Regions from separate parts of the Homo sapiens genome. Here region 2 is linked to region 1. The links come from fine-mapping of genetic effects on gene expression. Tissue or cell type: whole blood. Region 1 holds a variant in brackets; the other region holds the start of a gene. All regions are shown on one strand. Distances are between the middles of the regions.

Region 1 (8,099 bases):
TGGACTAGACACCCCTTCAAGGGCCTTAGCCCGATTACAGCATTTGCATATTGCATAATCATTGTCAGCTTCTCACACCAGACTGTAAGATCAAGGGCAAGATTGATCTGTAGATCCTCAATGTCTAGCACAACAGGTGCTCAACAAAGGCCTAACGACATCATGTGTTTATAATAATGCTAGGAGGCCCCATTGATGAGTGCCAGGTGCTGGGCTGGGCAGCTTCAACATGAGCCCTGACGCACGCCACTGTGTAAGGGAGGCATCGTTATCTCCATTGCAGACAGGCAACAACTGGGACTCAAATACCAGGGAATGTGTCCACGGCCACACAGCAAGAAGCTGCTGGGGTTGAAACCAGAAGCCAGATCAGGTCTCTAGAGTGCTTGATCTGACTCAGTTGGCTGTGATGGAAACGAGTGGGCACCCTGGACAGCTGGGGGCATGGGCAGTGTCAGGGAGCACAGACCTTGAGGCAGCACTGGAACTCCTCCTGGGCATCGCTGAACACCTCAACATCCAGGAAGAGCCGGAGTCGGTGGTCCACAGAGCGGAGGCCACAGCGCTCAGGGGCTGAGGGCAATGAGGGGGCATCAGCCTGCCCATGGCAGCCCCTGGGCTCCATCTCCACCTCCCCATCAGTGCCCCTTCCCTTCCCCAAACTCATCTATGTCTTGTTTTGCCTATACTCACGGGGACTGAGGCTCCAACTACCATGGTCACGGGTGCTCGGTGCCTGAGGTGGGCTGTTCTTGGCCCTGTCAAGGTGGTCACCATGGCCAGGAGGGTGGCAGACAGGGCTGGCAGACGGAGAAGGAGCCAGAGACTGCTCTCCCTGTTTCCGCTCCCTGTTGGGGGTTCCCCGAGACACAGCGAGGAGAACCACGTGGTCACTACCACAGTTAGGACACACAGCAGGAGATTCTGGAGGGAGGATGGACACGGTCCCCATGAGCCCCCCCCACAGTGCCACAACTCCCACCATGCTCACGATGCTCCTTCCCCATGCTCAGGTCTCCCCTGAGCCCAAGCCTCCAGCTTCATACACAACCACCGCGCCCCAGGCCACCAGCTCCCTCTCCCGGCACAGCTGCCAACTGATCACTCCCCACCCCAGGGAGGGATGAGCTAACCCTGGCCCACAAACTCCTCAAAGTGCACTCTACCTTCTAACTCTAGGCCCTCTCAGACTGGGCCAAACACAACCAGGACCTGCTCTTATGCCCTCTTACAGACTTGGGCTGATCAAGTACTTCAGGGCTCTCCTAGCAACGTCTGAAAGACCAAAATCAACAGGTCTGGAAAGGCAGAGAACTCTGTTGCCAAATTTCGGTCCAATTCCAGGCTCCATCAATTAATGGCTCTGTAATCATGGGCAAGTCATCTAAGCTCTGTGAGCCTGGTTCCTCGTCTATAAAACAGGGATGACAATAGCATCTATCTTATACTCATCCTTAGTGTCAGGAAGCTGGGAAGGAATCAGGACATGGATCAGCAATGAGAGAGGCAGCACTCTGAGCAGCTACACCGTGATGGGCATGCGCTACCTCCTATGCCACTATGATCGCATTTCATCACCAGAGAAACTCTCCCTATCCCATTTTGCAAAGAAGAAAGAAAATATTAAATCATTTACACATGCTGCCCAGGACCATACAGCTGGGGACAACGGCAGCAGCTACCATTTACAGGAGACCTTTGTGTTGTGCCAGGCCCTCTGCTTGGTGCCTTACTGTCACATTTAAATAGCGTAACAGCACCATGGGGTGAGTTCATTCCCTTCTTTGTTCAGAGGAGGTAACTGAGGTGCAAGTGAAAGGAGAATGGTTGGCCGGGCGTGGTGGCTCACGCCTGTAATCCCAGCACTTTGGGAGGCCAAGGTGGGCAGATCCGAGGTCAGGAGACAGACCATCCTGGCTAACACGGTGAAACCCCATCTCTACTAAAAATACAAAAAATTAGCTGGGTGTGGTGGTGGGCGCCTGTAGTCCCAGCTACTTGCGAGGCTGAGGCAGGAGAATGGCGTGAACCCGGAAGGCAGAGCTTGCAGTGAGCCAAGGTTGTGCCACTGCACTCCAGCCTGGGCAACAGAGCGAGACTCCGTCTCAAAAAAAAAAGAAAAAAAAAAATTAAAGGAGAACAGAGCCCACAGTAATGTTCATTAATAACGCCACCATGGAAGAGGCTCCAGAGACCACAGCACCTCATGGTGTACAGCCAGGGTCCGGGAGGGGCTGGGGGCTGTTTCTGTTTGCGCTGTGTCACTAAGGCTGCATGCCCAGGCCAGTTCACAGTGGGGAATGGAGCAGGGCTCCATTTTCTGAATAAAATCTAAACCCCTGCTCCAGCTGCCGCCAAGAAGAGAAAACCGTCTAATAAAATTCTGGCATTTCCACAGAGCTGTTATCAAGAATATTTATTTCTTCTTCAATGTCTTCTTCAAAGATAGTGCTGACTGGTCTACAATGGAAACAATTCTTGTTTTAAGGACTAGCGCATGAAGAAATGCCACAGGACATTATGTACCTTCCAAGGTCAGCCGGGAAGGATAAACCAAGCCAACTCCCCAAGCATCTCACTCAACAGCTACACTTGCTGGCAGAGGCAGCACCACAATCCAATACTGCAGTGAGGGCTCATTAGGTTTTATGTAGTGTCTGAAATATCAGCCAAAAAATCCCCAACACAACAAGCCTTCAAGTTATGAAAAAATAATGAGTATGTTTAAGCACAGTTACAGAGATTGCATTTCCTGACTTTTAGAGTTAAAAAAAAAAAAAAAACAGGATATAGTTTCTTCTTTTTTTCTGTTTTCCTTTTTGTAAATGCAGCAGGCAGACGGTTTTCTTTTTCCTCCAGGCAGAACAACTGCTCTCCACTCTAGCCCCTTCTCCCTAGGGCTCCCCCTTCACACTCCCCTACACAGAGCCACTTTCCCTGGAACAGGGGAGGCGTGTGGGCAGAGAGGTCAAGGGCAGGACTTGTACCTGTCTTTTGGAACAGAGGCCTCCAGCCTTCCTCACTGTCTAATCCCATCCTGGGCTCCTCTGGCTTGAACTCATGGCCACAGCGTAGACACTGGAATCTACCCAGCAGGAGGTCCCTGGCCTCCCCAAGCTGTTCCCGAGCCACATTGGTGACTGGGGTCAACACGGCAAGCAGCTCCTGACAGAGGGTGGATCAGAGGCAGCTGTGAGCAGGCGGACCCCAGACGGACACCTCCCACAGGCCCCCGGCCCTCAGGCCTGCTGCCACTTCCCTCTGGCTCTCTTAATCCCCACAGCCTCCTGGGCCCCCACTCTGGGCGCCATCACCTGGACAGCTGCGTGGGCATCAGGCTCCAGCACCAAATAGCGACGCAACTGCCGGTCAGGGCAGATGTAGGAGAAGCGCAGACTGAGGATGGGGGCTCCAGGGAGCAGATCTGAGCCCTGCGCAGCAAGAGGGGGACCGGGTGAAAAACAGCAGGGGCGGTGATCAGAGGGATGAGGGGATGCTGAGAGCATGGAGGATGGCAGGACCTCTGAAGCCTGTCAAAGGCCTGTACTGACGTCCAAGCTCCAGCACAGAATCCCTGCTCCTCAGCCCAGCTTCCCGAGTGCTTGCAACCTCTGAGGCTCCCCTCCTCGGCTCCTAGTGCCAAGGAGAGACTGAAAGAAATGCCCAGCCCAGTGCAGGGCACACAACAGCCATGTTCCCATAACTGGCTCCTCCAGAGACCCTGCCACGCCCCACTCACCGTGGGCCTGGGCGACCTCTGGGCCTGGGCCTCCGGCTCTATCTCAGCTGCCTCCAGACTCTGGAGCTCCAGTCGCTCCAAGGTGCGAGCTGCTTGGAGTTCCACCTCAAACAGGTGGGCAGAAGTGACCCTGAGAAAGCATTCCCTGCCCCGTACGCCCTCAGGCCCCTCCAGGGGACACACCAACAAGGGGCGACAGAGTTCCGCTGTGGAGAGACCAAGAGAAAAGGCCTGCAGGGAGGGAAAGTACCCACACTCTGCCCTCCCCCGAACTGGCCCTCCACCCGCCAGGCCCCACCACTCACAAACATCCCAAGGGCCCCTGGCCTCAGCTCGCCCCAGCCCACAAAGGGCTCACCTTCCACTTCCTTCTGGTCCTGCTCCTCTTCTTCCTCCTCTCCTGCCTCCTCTTCTCCCTGTTCCACCATCTCCCCCTCCTCCTTCTCCTCCTTCCCCTCCTTCTCCTCTTCCTCCTCCTGTGGCTCCGCCCTGACCTCCTCTGACATTTTCTGTGGTGACTCCTGGGGGCCTCTGGCTTCCTCCTGCGGGGGTGAAGGTCTGGGTGCAGTGTCGGGGCCCTGGGAGCTGGCTGGAGGTGCACTGGGTGCAGAAGTAGTGGGGGTGGCCGGCAGAGGGTTTCCGGAGGGCTCCAGGTGACTCCTGTACTGCAGCCAGTTGCGGCCGAACCGTTCCCGGAAGCTGCTCATGAGCTCCAGCTCCGGGTGCTGCTGCACGAACCATCCTAGGCAGGAGGGGAACCCAGAACTGAGCAAGCCTGCCCCACACAGATGGCCCCAAATCCTTCAACGGTGCTCCTCAGCGATGAGGGGGC[G/A]ATGGGCTGTGTATGGGGACACGGGCAAGGGAGGCTACAGGCGTCCCCTCCGCGGCATGTACTAAAGCGTGTCCTATGGAACCCTGTGGTCACATGCAATCCAAGCTGCGCATCCTATGCTACTTCCAGAGACTCAGCATACATGATAGCATCCTGAAGGGCCCGAGACGGCCGGCAGCTGACACACCTATTTCTCTTCAACCTCACATTTCTCAAACTTCTCTGGCCACAATCCTATTATTTTATATATATACATATACACTTTCTTTTGTTTTGGGGTTTTTTACTTTTTTTTTTAAGAGATAAGGTCTTACTCTGTCACCAGGTTAGAGTGCAGTGGCATGATCATAGCTCACTGCAACCTTGAACTATCAGGCTCTGGCGATCCTCCTGCCTCAGCCTCCCAAGTAGCTAGGACTACAGGCGCACACCACCACGTCAGGCTAATTTAAAAATTTTTTTGTAGAAATGGACATCTCTCTATGTTGCCCAGGCTGGTCTCAAACTCCTGGGCTCAGGCAATCCTCCCACCTCAGCCTCCCAAAGTGCTGGGATTACAGATGTAAGCCACTGCACCTGGCCTACATGATCTCTTGACACCCCACAAAATTAATGTTCCTCGAAAAGTTTTCAAAATGCTCCCAGAAGCAGTCTTCTCCTTTCCCTAAACTAAAAGAAAAGAAAAAAGACTAAGAAGCCCTCTATAATACTCTACCCCAACAAAAAATAACATTTCTTCCAGCAGATCTTCACTGTAACTTAAAAATTAGAGTGAGCTCGCTGGGGACGAGAGAGGTTAGTGGGATGAAGCTGACTTACCAGCCGGAGAGGGGTTCAGAGTTCGGGGCTCCGGGTCCGTATCACTGGGTTCAGAGATGCTTGCCCGCCTCACACGGACTCGGCTCTGAGGTTGGTGGAGGGAAGAAGTTCTGTGAAAGCCAAGCCTCCAGCCCTGCCATCCACGGCTGGCCATCCAACCTATCAAAGAAACCTTGACCACGTGCAAGCACAGTTCCTACCATTCCCTGCCCACTGTAGCCCAGAGTCCCCGGAGAGACACCCAACCGCAGGCACAAGGCAGCGGAGGACGCTGCTTACCTTAACCTTATGAAGCAGGGGCTGGGTCACAACACCCCCTGAGGAGAGGCTGTCACTCAGGTCAGGGCCACCTGAGGTTTCAGGAGTACTCCCCACTGGCCAGGGCAAAGGTGGGCCCATGGGGCTGAGCCCCAAGGATGTGTGAGTCTGGCACGTGACGACAGGAAGGAGAGAGAGGTTGGAGCCTGGGAGCACCTCTGCCTTGCCCAAGCCAGCCAAAAGGCGGGACCCTACTTTCCACTGACCAGGAAGACCCTGTCACCAGCCAGCCCTCTGTTCTCTCCCCAGCGCCCTCCCTTCGTGTCTTCCCCCAACAGTCCTCGCCCCCCAACCACACCGACCTGAAAATCTGTCAGTGACAAGACCTTGCCATCGAGAAGGAACTGAGCAAAGACAAAAAGGGGGAGGGAGTATGTGGTAGGCCCATCCTGCTGAGCTCCAGGTATTAAGAACACAGTAAGCAGGGTCCAGGTCCTTGGCCCCTCACCCAGGGATGGCAAGAGGGTGCAAGGTGGGGGAGGACTGGGCAGGAAAGGGGAAGAAGAGTGGACACAGGACGATCACTCACGCCAGTAGCAGCATCCCTGGCCCGGGGTGACAAGTACTGGGCAGTGGCTGCTCGGTGCTCAGGGTGGAACCAAAGAGGGTTCCCCTCCAGGTAGAGCTGAGGGGCAGGAAGGGGAGAATGAGGAGGGCCTGGGGCCCTGGCCCTCCCTGTGTGAAGAAGGCACTGACCAAACCAGCATGGGGGGGTACGTGCAAGGGTGGTTCCCAGGCCCCTGATGCATTCCCATCTCACCTTGCGGAGCTCAGCCAGCAGCCACAGTGGTGACAGCTCCCGGTGTCCTTCCAGCAGGTTGTATGCCAAATCCAGGTGCCGCAGATTCCTCAGCTGCTCTAGGCCTGGGGTGGACGCAAGAAGGAAGGAAGAGCATGTGGATGAGTACACGCAAGTGAGTGTGGTGCATGCACTGGGGGAGGTTGCAGCAGAAAGACCGGCCAGAGCACCCCTGCACTCCCCATAAGCCCTCTCAAGGCTCTAGAGGCACATGGTCCCCAGGCCAGCCCCAGCCTCACTCTCCCCCTTCCCCTCCATGCTTGCCCCATCACACACCCCCACTCACCATGCAGGCTCCGAAGCTCATTGCCTCGCAGTATCAGGACCCCCAGAGCAGCCCCTGAGGGTCCCATTCTTGGCACCAAATGCAGGCGATTATAGGAGATGTCCAGATGGTGGAGCTCACACAAATCCTGGCAGGGGTACAGGGGAGAAAAAGATTATCTCGTTGACCAAACTCTAGCCAGGGTCCTCTGAGACCTCTTCTGGACTAGGCCTCAACCTTGGCCTATATAAAACTGCACACACTCAGCACAAATGATTTCATCCACCCCTACTCCCACGTTAAAAGACTTGAACAACACCAGCACTGTTCCTAACAGTTCAAGGCCACACCCTGAGCATGGCAACTCCAAGCCCCTTAAATTCCTGCCTGGGAAAAGTCAAAGCTGCCAAAAGAATTTCCCATTTGTTTCAGCCAACTCCTGAAGATAGGGCCCCGTCTCCCAGTCTCTGTGAAAGGGTAAGGGCCTTATTTTGGTAAGTGCCAGTTAGTTAGCAAACTCAGATGGGTTTCATGTGGACCAACCTGATTTCCACTCCCCCAGCTCTGCTCAAGGCCCTACCATTCCCCTGCCCACTCCCCGCCGCCCTCTTTTAAAATGCCCAGCCGGCCAGGTGCAGTGGCTCATGCCTGTAATCCCAGCACTCTGGGAGGCCAAAGAGGGGGGATCACTTGAGGCCAGGAGTTCGAGACTCACCTGGCCAACATTGTGAAACCCCGTCTCTACTAAAAATACAAAAATTAGCTGGGCGTGGTGGCACACACTTGTAATCCCAGCTACTTGGGAGGCTGAGGCAGGAGAATCGCTTGAACCCGGGAGGCAGAGGTTACGGTGAGCCAAGATCGTGCCATTGCACTCCAGCCTGGGCAACAAGAGCGAAACTCTGTCTCATTAAAAAAAAAAAAAGGAAAAAAGTCCACTGACACTTCTGTATCTTCCAGGCTCTGTTCAGGGAAATAACCGTGACTGCAACACTGTCTATGCTATCACCACAAACATTCAAACTACAAACGAAGAAATCCATCGGTTGCCACTGCTATCCTCATTCCACCATCTAAAGAAACATAGAGCTCAACACCTAGAAATCTCAACTGGCTGCCCTCTGGACTCAGAAAATGGATTTATAGTCTGCTCCAACCATTCATCTTTGTTTCCCTTTTTGTTTCCATAGAAATGTCCCCCATTAAATGCCTGGTCACTCTCACCATCCAGCAAAATTCATCCACTACCAAGTCCCAATAAATGGCTCAGTTGGTTTTTAGTGAACAAAAGGTGATCAAGGAAGAAAAGGATTTATATTGTTCAGGG
Region 2 (8,093 bases), 37 kb after region 1:
CACCGTTCCCAGCCCAGCTCCTGGAAGGAGATGTTCAGTGCTACTCTGTGGCAGTTGGCATGGGCAGCCGGTTCCTCCGGAGGCCTCTGCAGCAGGCGCAGAGCAGAGGGAGACCAAGGCCAGGACATCAGGGGAGTTGAGCGTCGGGCTCTCTCCCCTCCACTGGGTGGTCTGGTCCGAGTGTGGGCCACCAGGAAGGGCGTGGCCTCAGGCCGGGCTGAGCAGGTACAGAGGGGACAGCGCAGCAGCAGCACCAGGACGGGGTGGGTCAGCAGAGAGAGAGCAGAGGTGGCCAGGTGCAGCACGGCCCAGTGAGGGGGAGCATGGCCCAAAGACATGGGCACAGCCACGGGTCCTCCCGGTGACAGTGCCAGCAGGCCTAGCAGGGGCTCAGAGCTATTGGAGGCTGCTGTGCCCTGCCTGTCCAGCCCGGTGTGGAACCACAGCTGGGCTGAAGTCACCTGGCGGCTGCGTGTATGCTGGGATGGCCGGAACATGTATCTGAAGAGGCCCTCCTCAGCCTCCTGGGCCAGCCCTCTGGCAGCTGACTTGTCCTCACAGCTGGCATCTGCAGGAGACAGAAGAAAAGGGAGAGGGCAGCCCTGACTGGCAGGACCTGGCACCCCTCCTCTTCAGCAGGAGGGATGTGGCCACCAGTCATGAGCCAATGATGGGCTGCACTCTGCTCCACGCCCTCCGGGACGTGGGGACTCTCCTGAGTTTTGGGAGAGCTTCTGTAGGCTTCCCATTTTTTAATTTCATCATGAAGGGACTTAAAAAAATAGAAGACATTGCCAACTTCTCTCTGAAGTGGTTTTACCAATTAACATGCCCATCAGCAGTGTGTAAGAGGCCCTCTCTCCACTTCACCAGCACTAAGACTTTGTATTAGACTTCAATGCTTACTCACCAGATAGTGTGAAACAGTATCCTGAATGGTGTCTACATGGATGGTTGTTATATTCTTTTTTTTTTTTTTTTTTGAGACAGAGTCTTACTGTGTCACCCAGGCTGGAGTGCAGTGGCATGATCACGGCTCACTGCAGCGTCTACCTCCTGGGCTCAAGCAATCCTCCCACCTCAGCCTCCTGAGTAACTGAGACCACAGGCGTGTGCTACCACACCTAGCTAACTTTTGTGGGTTTTGTAGAGACAGGGTCTCGCTATGTTGCCCAGGCTGATCTCAAACTCCTGAGCTCAAGCAATCTGCCTGCCTTCACCTTCCAAAGTGCTGGGATTATAGGCGTGAGCCATCACACCCAGCCATATTACCATTTTTTTTTTTTTTTTGAGATGGAGTCTAGCTCTGTCGCCCAGGCTGGAGTGCAGTGGCGCCATCTCGGCTCACTGCAACCTCTGCCTTCCGCTCCGCCTCCCACGTTCAAGCAATTCTCCTGCCTCAGCTTCCCGAGTAGCTGGTGCCACCATGCCTGGCTAATTTTTTGTATTTTTAGTAGAGACGGGGTTCACCATGTTAGCCAGGATAGTCTCGATCTCTTGACCTTGTGATCCTCCTGCCTTGGCCTCCCAAAGTGCTGGGAGTACAGACGTGAGCCACCGCGCCCGGCCTATATTACTCTTTATATCTTTGGCATGTCAGGAATATTGTAGGATAAATTCTTTAAAATAATTCCATTTTTAAAAGACAGGTTTACACCAAAAAAAAAAAAAAAAGAAGAAGGAGGGAAAGGCAAGTGGGAAAGGGAAGAAAATGGAGAACAAGGAAGAGGGGGAAGAGAAGGAGGAGGGCTGTAACTCAGAACAGAGGGCAGTCCTTTCAAGAATGTGTAGTTAGCATCCTCACACTGACACACTCATAGACTATACTAATCATCCTGGAGCAGCACTCGTTCATGGACTGGCAATTGGAACTATACTGTTACATGGCTTCTCTCATTATCTAGTCACAATTGGTCCATTTTGCAGATAAGGAAACTGAGGCTTAGAGAGGTGAAATGACGTTCAACGACTAAGTGGCCAGGCTTGGATTTTGCCTGATCCCAAAGCCATCCTTCTCCCCACTGTGCTGCGAACGGACTGAAGTGAGGGAGGCAGGGGTCCTCTCTAAGAGAAAGGTGGACCAGATGACAAGAAAGCCCACCCACAGGAGGGCTTATCCATTCAGTCAGTGGAACAAGGGGGCACATATATGTTGAGACAGGAACTCAAGAGAAGATAGACTAGTTTTCCAGAAAAGTTTCCCAACTAATCTTTTGCCTGTATCTCTGATAGCTTCTCAGTGTCAGCTACCTGGGAGTAAAGAAACAGGGTTTGGAGCAGCGAGCAGAGGCAGAGATAGGAGGAAAGGTGGCAGGAAGGGGCTCAAGCCCAAATATCTCCATCTTTAGAGACCCCCGGTCTCCCAGCGCATACTTCCCAAATGCCTCCCACCTGCCATGCACTCTAGGTACAGCCTCTCACTTAATCCTGAGAGGTGGGCATTAGCCCATTTTACAGATGGGGAGACAGAAGCATAAGGAAGTTTAGTAACTGGCCTATTGCTGCAAAGCAACTGAGTAGCAGGACTAGGATTCAAACCCAGGTCCGCCTGGCCTGCAAACCCATGCTGTGCCTTGCTTTTTCTCAAAGTCATCCTGCCGGTTCCCCCACCCTCGTTACCTGTGGCTGGGAAAAGGATGGCTTGGGAGACATCCTCCTCTTCCTCGGGCTCAGAGCCCCTGTGTGTGAAGCCCCCCAGGGCATGTCTTCGGGGCAGCCGCCTGACTCCAGGGTCCCCACCTTCCCTGGTCACCGCGGGGGGCCCCAAGGCATCCAAGAACAGGGCCCTCACCTTGGCCAGAACAAGTTCCCGGGCCAGCTCCAGCCCCTGGCAGCTGTGCCCACCCTGTGGGGTCAGCAGCAAGAAGAGCAGTAGGTGCAGCACCATAGCTCACCTGGCCCTGCTAGTGGGGAACTCACACCCTGCCCCGTGCCCCTTCTGCCAGGGTCTGCCCAGGGCCTTTCCACTCTCCCCTCCCCATCCCACACCCACCCTCTTCTACCCTTCTCATCCAGTCTTCCCCAGTCCTTTCCACGCCCCACAGTCCGAGTTGCCCCTGCCCGTGGCATTGAGACCTCCTATCTCTGACGCAGATGTCTGTGGCCATGAGCCTTATCTCCCACTCCCGCCAGGGATGTGGGGGAGGGGCTGGGAAGGATTTCGCCTCAAGCGACCTGACTCACACATGCAAACATACAACACCTTCTCCCTACACACACACACACTCACACACACACTCACACACACACTCACACACACACAAATTCTCACACACACACACTCTCTCACACACACACACACAGACACATCCAGAGGTGACATCAGGTGGGACAGGAGCCTGGGAGCTGTAGCCGGCCAGCCCCAGAAAGTGTTATTTGTCAGGGAGACAAAGTGCATCACCCCTCAGACCTTCTGGGGCCCCTTTCAATAAGCAGCTGCTGGCCGGCCAGCCCTTGGGGGCAGGGCTGGAACCGGGGCTAGAACCGGGGCTAGGGCCGGGGGCAGGTGGTCCTGCCTGCTCTATACTTAGACCAGTGGAGCCAGTCTGGGCTCTTGTCCTCCAGCTGTGTCATCAGAGAATATTTTTGGGATTGGCAGCTGCAGGCGCCTCTGCCACTCAGGCCCAAGCCTGGCGGGCGGCTGGGGACCTGGCGGCTGGAGGTGGGAGGGAGGAGGGGGAAGAGGCCCAAGCTGTGGGAGGGGGCTGGGAAGAGAGGCTCCTAAGAGCAGGAAGCCAGGCAGCGGGCAGGGGAGGCTGCGGGGCCACTCGCTGGAGAGGCAAACAGGAAGGACTGCCCCCTGAGCGCCAGGCTTCGGGCCCGGGAATCGCCGCCGCCGCCGCCGCAGAGCTGCAGCTCGGGGCCGAGGGTAAGGAGGCGAGCCGGGAGCGGGAGGCCCGGGAGAGCTCCGCGGGTCCCCGCGCCCAGTCCCCAGCCGCGCCCCGACCCCGCCGCCCCGGGCCTCGGCTCGCCCTCCGCACCCCCCCCTGCCCCCCCACCGTTCGCCGCTGCAGGCGGTCGGCCGCCGCGATGAAGGCGAGCTCGGGGGATCAGGGGAGCCCCCCGTGCTTCCTGCGCTTCCCGCGGCCTGTGCGGGTGGTAAGTGGCGCCGAGGCCGAGCTCAAGTGCGTGGTCCTGGGGGAGCCGCCGCCTGTAGTGGTGTGGGAGAAGGGCGGGCAGCAGCTGGCGGCCTCGGAACGCCTGAGCTTCCCGGCGGACGGCGCGGAGCACGGCCTGCTGCTGACCGCCGCACTGCCCACCGACGCGGGGGTCTACGTGTGCCGCGCCCGCAACGCGGCCGGCGAGGCCTACGCGGCGGCCGCCGTCACCGTGCTGGAGCCGCCGGCCTCCGACCCCGAGCTGCAGCCCGCCGAGCGCCCGCTGCCATCGCCGGGGTCCGGGGAGGGCGCCCCGGTCTTCCTCACGGGGCCTCGATCCCAGTGGGTGCTGCGGGGGGCGGAGGTGGTGCTGACGTGCCGGGCGGGGGGCCTCCCCGAGCCCACACTGTACTGGGAGAAGGACGGGATGGCCCTGGACGAAGTGTGGGACAGCAGCCACTTCGCGCTCCAGCCGGGCCGCGCCGAGGACGGCCCCGGCGCGAGCCTGGCACTGCGCATCCTGGCGGCTCGGCTGCCGGATTCCGGCGTCTACGTGTGCCACGCCCGCAACGCGCACGGCCACGCGCAGGCGGGGGCGCTGCTCCAGGTGCACCAGCCCCCCGAGAGCCCGCCCGCGGACCCCGACGAGGCCCCCGCGCCGGTGGTGGAGCCGCTCAAGTGCGCGCCTAAGACCTTCTGGGTGAACGAGGGCAAGCACGCCAAGTTCCGCTGCTACGTGATGGGCAAGCCCGAGCCCGAGATCGAATGGCACTGGGAGGGCCGCCCGCTGCTCCCGGACCGCCGCCGCCTCATGTACCGCGACCGCGACGGCGGCTTCGTGCTCAAGGTGCTTTACTGCCAGGCCAAGGATCGTGGGCTCTACGTCTGCGCCGCGCGCAACTCGGCGGGCCAGACGCTCAGTGCCGTGCAGCTGCACGTGAAAGGTACGGCGGAGCCCGGGACCTAGGGAGGGGCCTCGAGTGTCCTCCGAGGCCCTCCGAACTCCAGCCCTCCTCGGTGCCCAGCGCTGCCCCCAAGACTGGAGGAGAGGTGGTCCGCGGGAATATTAAAATACCAAACCCGCCCGCCTCTCACTCCCCAGGGATTCGGATTTAGTAGGTCTCCAGGGTACTCAGGAACTTCTTAGCAAACTCCTTAAATGATTCCGAGGCAGATGGTGGAACACCACTAAGGAGTGATTGATGTACAAATCCGGAGGGCCCTAGAACTCTTCTTCCCTAGTGGTTTTCAACGTCTTTGTTATTTTACTCCTCCTTCCCCCACTGAATTCACAACCAGAGCCCCAATATATGAGACAGATAAAGGAGTAGTTTATGGGCGTAAATTGCTGAGTCTACGTATATAACAGGTACTTCTAAACCATCAGTGAGAATAAGGAGGCTATTTTATTGAATACAGGAATTTGAATTAAAGGCTGCATTCATGAGACCAGGCTCTGAACCCTGTGGGGACGGCCTGGCTGCATCTGTCACCTTGAGAAACAAGTGATTCAGTGGAAAGCTAGACTTGAGGGAGGACAAATGTCCTGCGTGTTTTTACTATTCTTTGATTAAACTGCTCCCCACGTTTGCAAGAAGAGGAAGGTGAAGGAGAGAAGGTTTATATTTCAAAGTTGAATCACCAACAATATCCAATAAATGGTTACATTCTCATAAACAGAAAATTCCAAAGGAAAAAAAAGCACACCCCAAACTCACCAGAAGGTAACGCTCCCCATAATAGGATTTCATCACAACGCAAAAGAGTACACCTTCACTAGTTATTGTCCAGTTTTTTCTCTTAGAGGAAAAAAAGTTGGTAAATTCTCCTGAGTCCTTCCTAGCATGCAGTCAAGCATGTTGCCCCCAGGCTGCGGTGGTGGCCTCACTGTTACAGTTCAATGCTCACAGATTCATCAGGTTGGTGCTGATCTGGACCTCCATCAGGAAAGAAAAGCCCGGAGGGAAGGCTAGAGGAGCTTCCCCGAGTTGCATACACACACGCACACAAAAACTTGCTTCTCCAGCAGCCCTAGTTAATCCTCTGATTTCCAACATCCTGTTTTCTTTTCTTTTCTTTTTTTTTTTTTGAAATACACTTTTGAAAAGGGTTAAAATAGCTAGGCACAGTGGCTCACCCTGTAATCCCAGCACTTTGGGAGACTAAGGTGGGCGGATCATTTGAGGTCAGGAGTTCGAGAACAGCCTGGCCAACATGGCAAAACCCCATCTCTACTAAAAATACAAAATCATTAGCCAGGCGTGGTGGCGCCTGCCTGTAATCCCAGCTCTACTTGAGAGGCTGAGGCACCAGAATTGCTTGAACCCAGGAGGTGGAGGTTGCAGTGAGCCGAGATTGCGCGACTGCACTCCAGCCTGGGCAACAGAGCGAGACTCCATCTCAAAAAAAAAAAGAGTTAAAATATTTTAAATTCTACTCAGACCCTTGCAGAATATGTGAAATGACTGGGGCGGGGGGAGCCAGGGAACAGTTTGGAAATCACCAATCTAGGGCCTGGAGGACCCCAGGGAACAGTTTGGAAATCATCAATCTGGTCCAACCCCTTCTCTCCCTTTCCCCATTTTACAAGTAAGGAGACTGAGGCCCAGAAGCATTGAAATGGACTTGCTTAAGGTGATGTGGCTAGTGTCAGGGCTGGATGAGAACTCAGGTCATCTTAGGAACCACCACTTCCCTTCTGGTAGTTTTCTGTGATTCCACAGTGCCCGCTGGCTCTGCATGAAGAGCACACAGCATGAGCTAATGCGCTTCTAGGTATCCTACTCCTAGTCTGGGCCTTCTCCAGAGCCCTCTCTTGTCTCTCTCTCCCCTCTCCACAGAGCCCCGCCTCCGGTTCACACGGCCCCTGCAGGACGTGGAGGGCCGTGAGCACGGGATTGCCGTGCTGGAATGTAAAGTACCCAACTCCCGCATCCCCACGGCCTGGTTCCGTGAGGACCAGCGGCTGCTGCCCTGCCGCAAGTACGAGCAGATCGAAGAGGGCACTGTCCGGCGCCTCATCATCCACAGGCTGAAGGCAGACGATGATGGTATCTACCTGTGCGAGATGCGGGGCCGGGTGCGCACCGTGGCCAACGTCACAGTCAAAGGTCAGCTGGCCCGTGGGGAAGAGGCTGAGGCGGAGGCAGGCAGGTGCTCAGATTCCAGGTTGATGGATTCCTGTCCGCATCTCAGGGCCCATCCTGAAGCGCCTGCCCCGGAAGCTCGACGTCCTGGAAGGAGAGAATGCTGTGCTGCTAGTGGAAACTCTAGAGGCCGGGGTCGAGGGACGCTGGAGCCGTGATGGGGAGGAGCTGCCGGTCATCTGCCAGAGCAGCTCAGGCCACATGCATGCCCTGGTCCTTCCAGGGGTCACCCGAGAGGATGCTGGCGAGGTCACCTTTAGCCTGGGCAACTCCCGTACCACTACGCTTCTCAGAGTAAAATGTGAGGGCAGGAAGGCCTCTGGACAGGCGAGGCAGGGCAGGAGGTTGGCCAGATGCCGGAGCTGGGTTGGTGAAGTAGATTTAAGGTGGAAGGGCTGTGGAGGCCCAAGCAAGGCCGGAACACATCCCTGCCTTGGTCTCAGGTGTCAAGCACAGTCCCCCAGGACCCCCCATATTGGCAGAGATGTTCAAGGGCCACAAGAACACGGTCCTGTTGACCTGGAAGCCTCCCGAGCCAGCTCCCGAGACCCCATTCATCTACCGGCTGGAGCGGCAGGAAGTGGGCTCTGAAGACTGGATTCAGTGCTTCAGCATCGAGAAAGCCGGAGCCGTGGAGGTGCCGGGCGACTGTGTGCCCTCCGAGGGTGACTACCGCTTCCGCATCTGCACAGTCAGCGGACATGGCCGTAGTCCCCACGTGGTGTTCCACGGTTCTGCTCACCTTGGTGAGTTGGTCCTGCCAGACCCACCCATCACTTCTCCTCCCTTCCCCAGCCCTCAGTGCTGGTCCTCTCACAGGCTTGCCATCCGCCAGCCTCTGCCCTCTGCC

What was found. PIP is the estimated chance that this variant, and not a neighbour inherited with it, causes the effect.
Region 2: it holds the start of OBSL1, and the variant in region 1 is fine-mapped to the expression of OBSL1 in whole blood (TOPMed, PIP above 0.99).

What each region holds. Positions count from the first base shown.
Region 1 is chr2:219,604,429-219,612,527 of GRCh38, reverse strand. STK11IP (serine/threonine kinase 11 interacting protein) reads right to left here. Exons shown (of 25, transcript NM_052902.4): 8 at 6,794-6,920; 9 at 6,469-6,572; 10 at 6,238-6,333; 11 at 6,011-6,052; 12 at 5,670-5,816; 13 at 5,391-5,475; 14 at 4,098-4,481; 15 at 3,740-3,945; 16 at 3,315-3,431; 17 at 2,988-3,165; 18 at 694-924; 19 at 470-573. Among named protein-coding and RNA genes, the nearest start is that of STK11IP, 11 kb to the right of the region's middle. RefSeq lists enhancers at 3,762-4,261, 6,267-7,466. The variant G/A (reference allele first, on the strand shown) is at 4,572.
Region 2 is chr2:219,567,169-219,575,261 of GRCh38, reverse strand. OBSL1 (obscurin like cytoskeletal adaptor 1) reads left to right here and starts at 3,723. Exons shown (of 21, transcript NM_015311.3): 1 at 3,723-5,041; 2 at 6,938-7,207; 3 at 7,293-7,544; 4 at 7,687-7,989. The coding sequence starts at 4,030. It overlaps INHA (inhibin subunit alpha), which reads right to left and starts at 2,952. Exons shown (of 2, transcript NM_002191.4): 1 at 2,620-2,952; 2 at 1-568. The coding sequence starts at 2,887. RefSeq lists enhancers at 2,961-3,255, 3,942-4,779, 4,780-5,617, 7,740-8,093.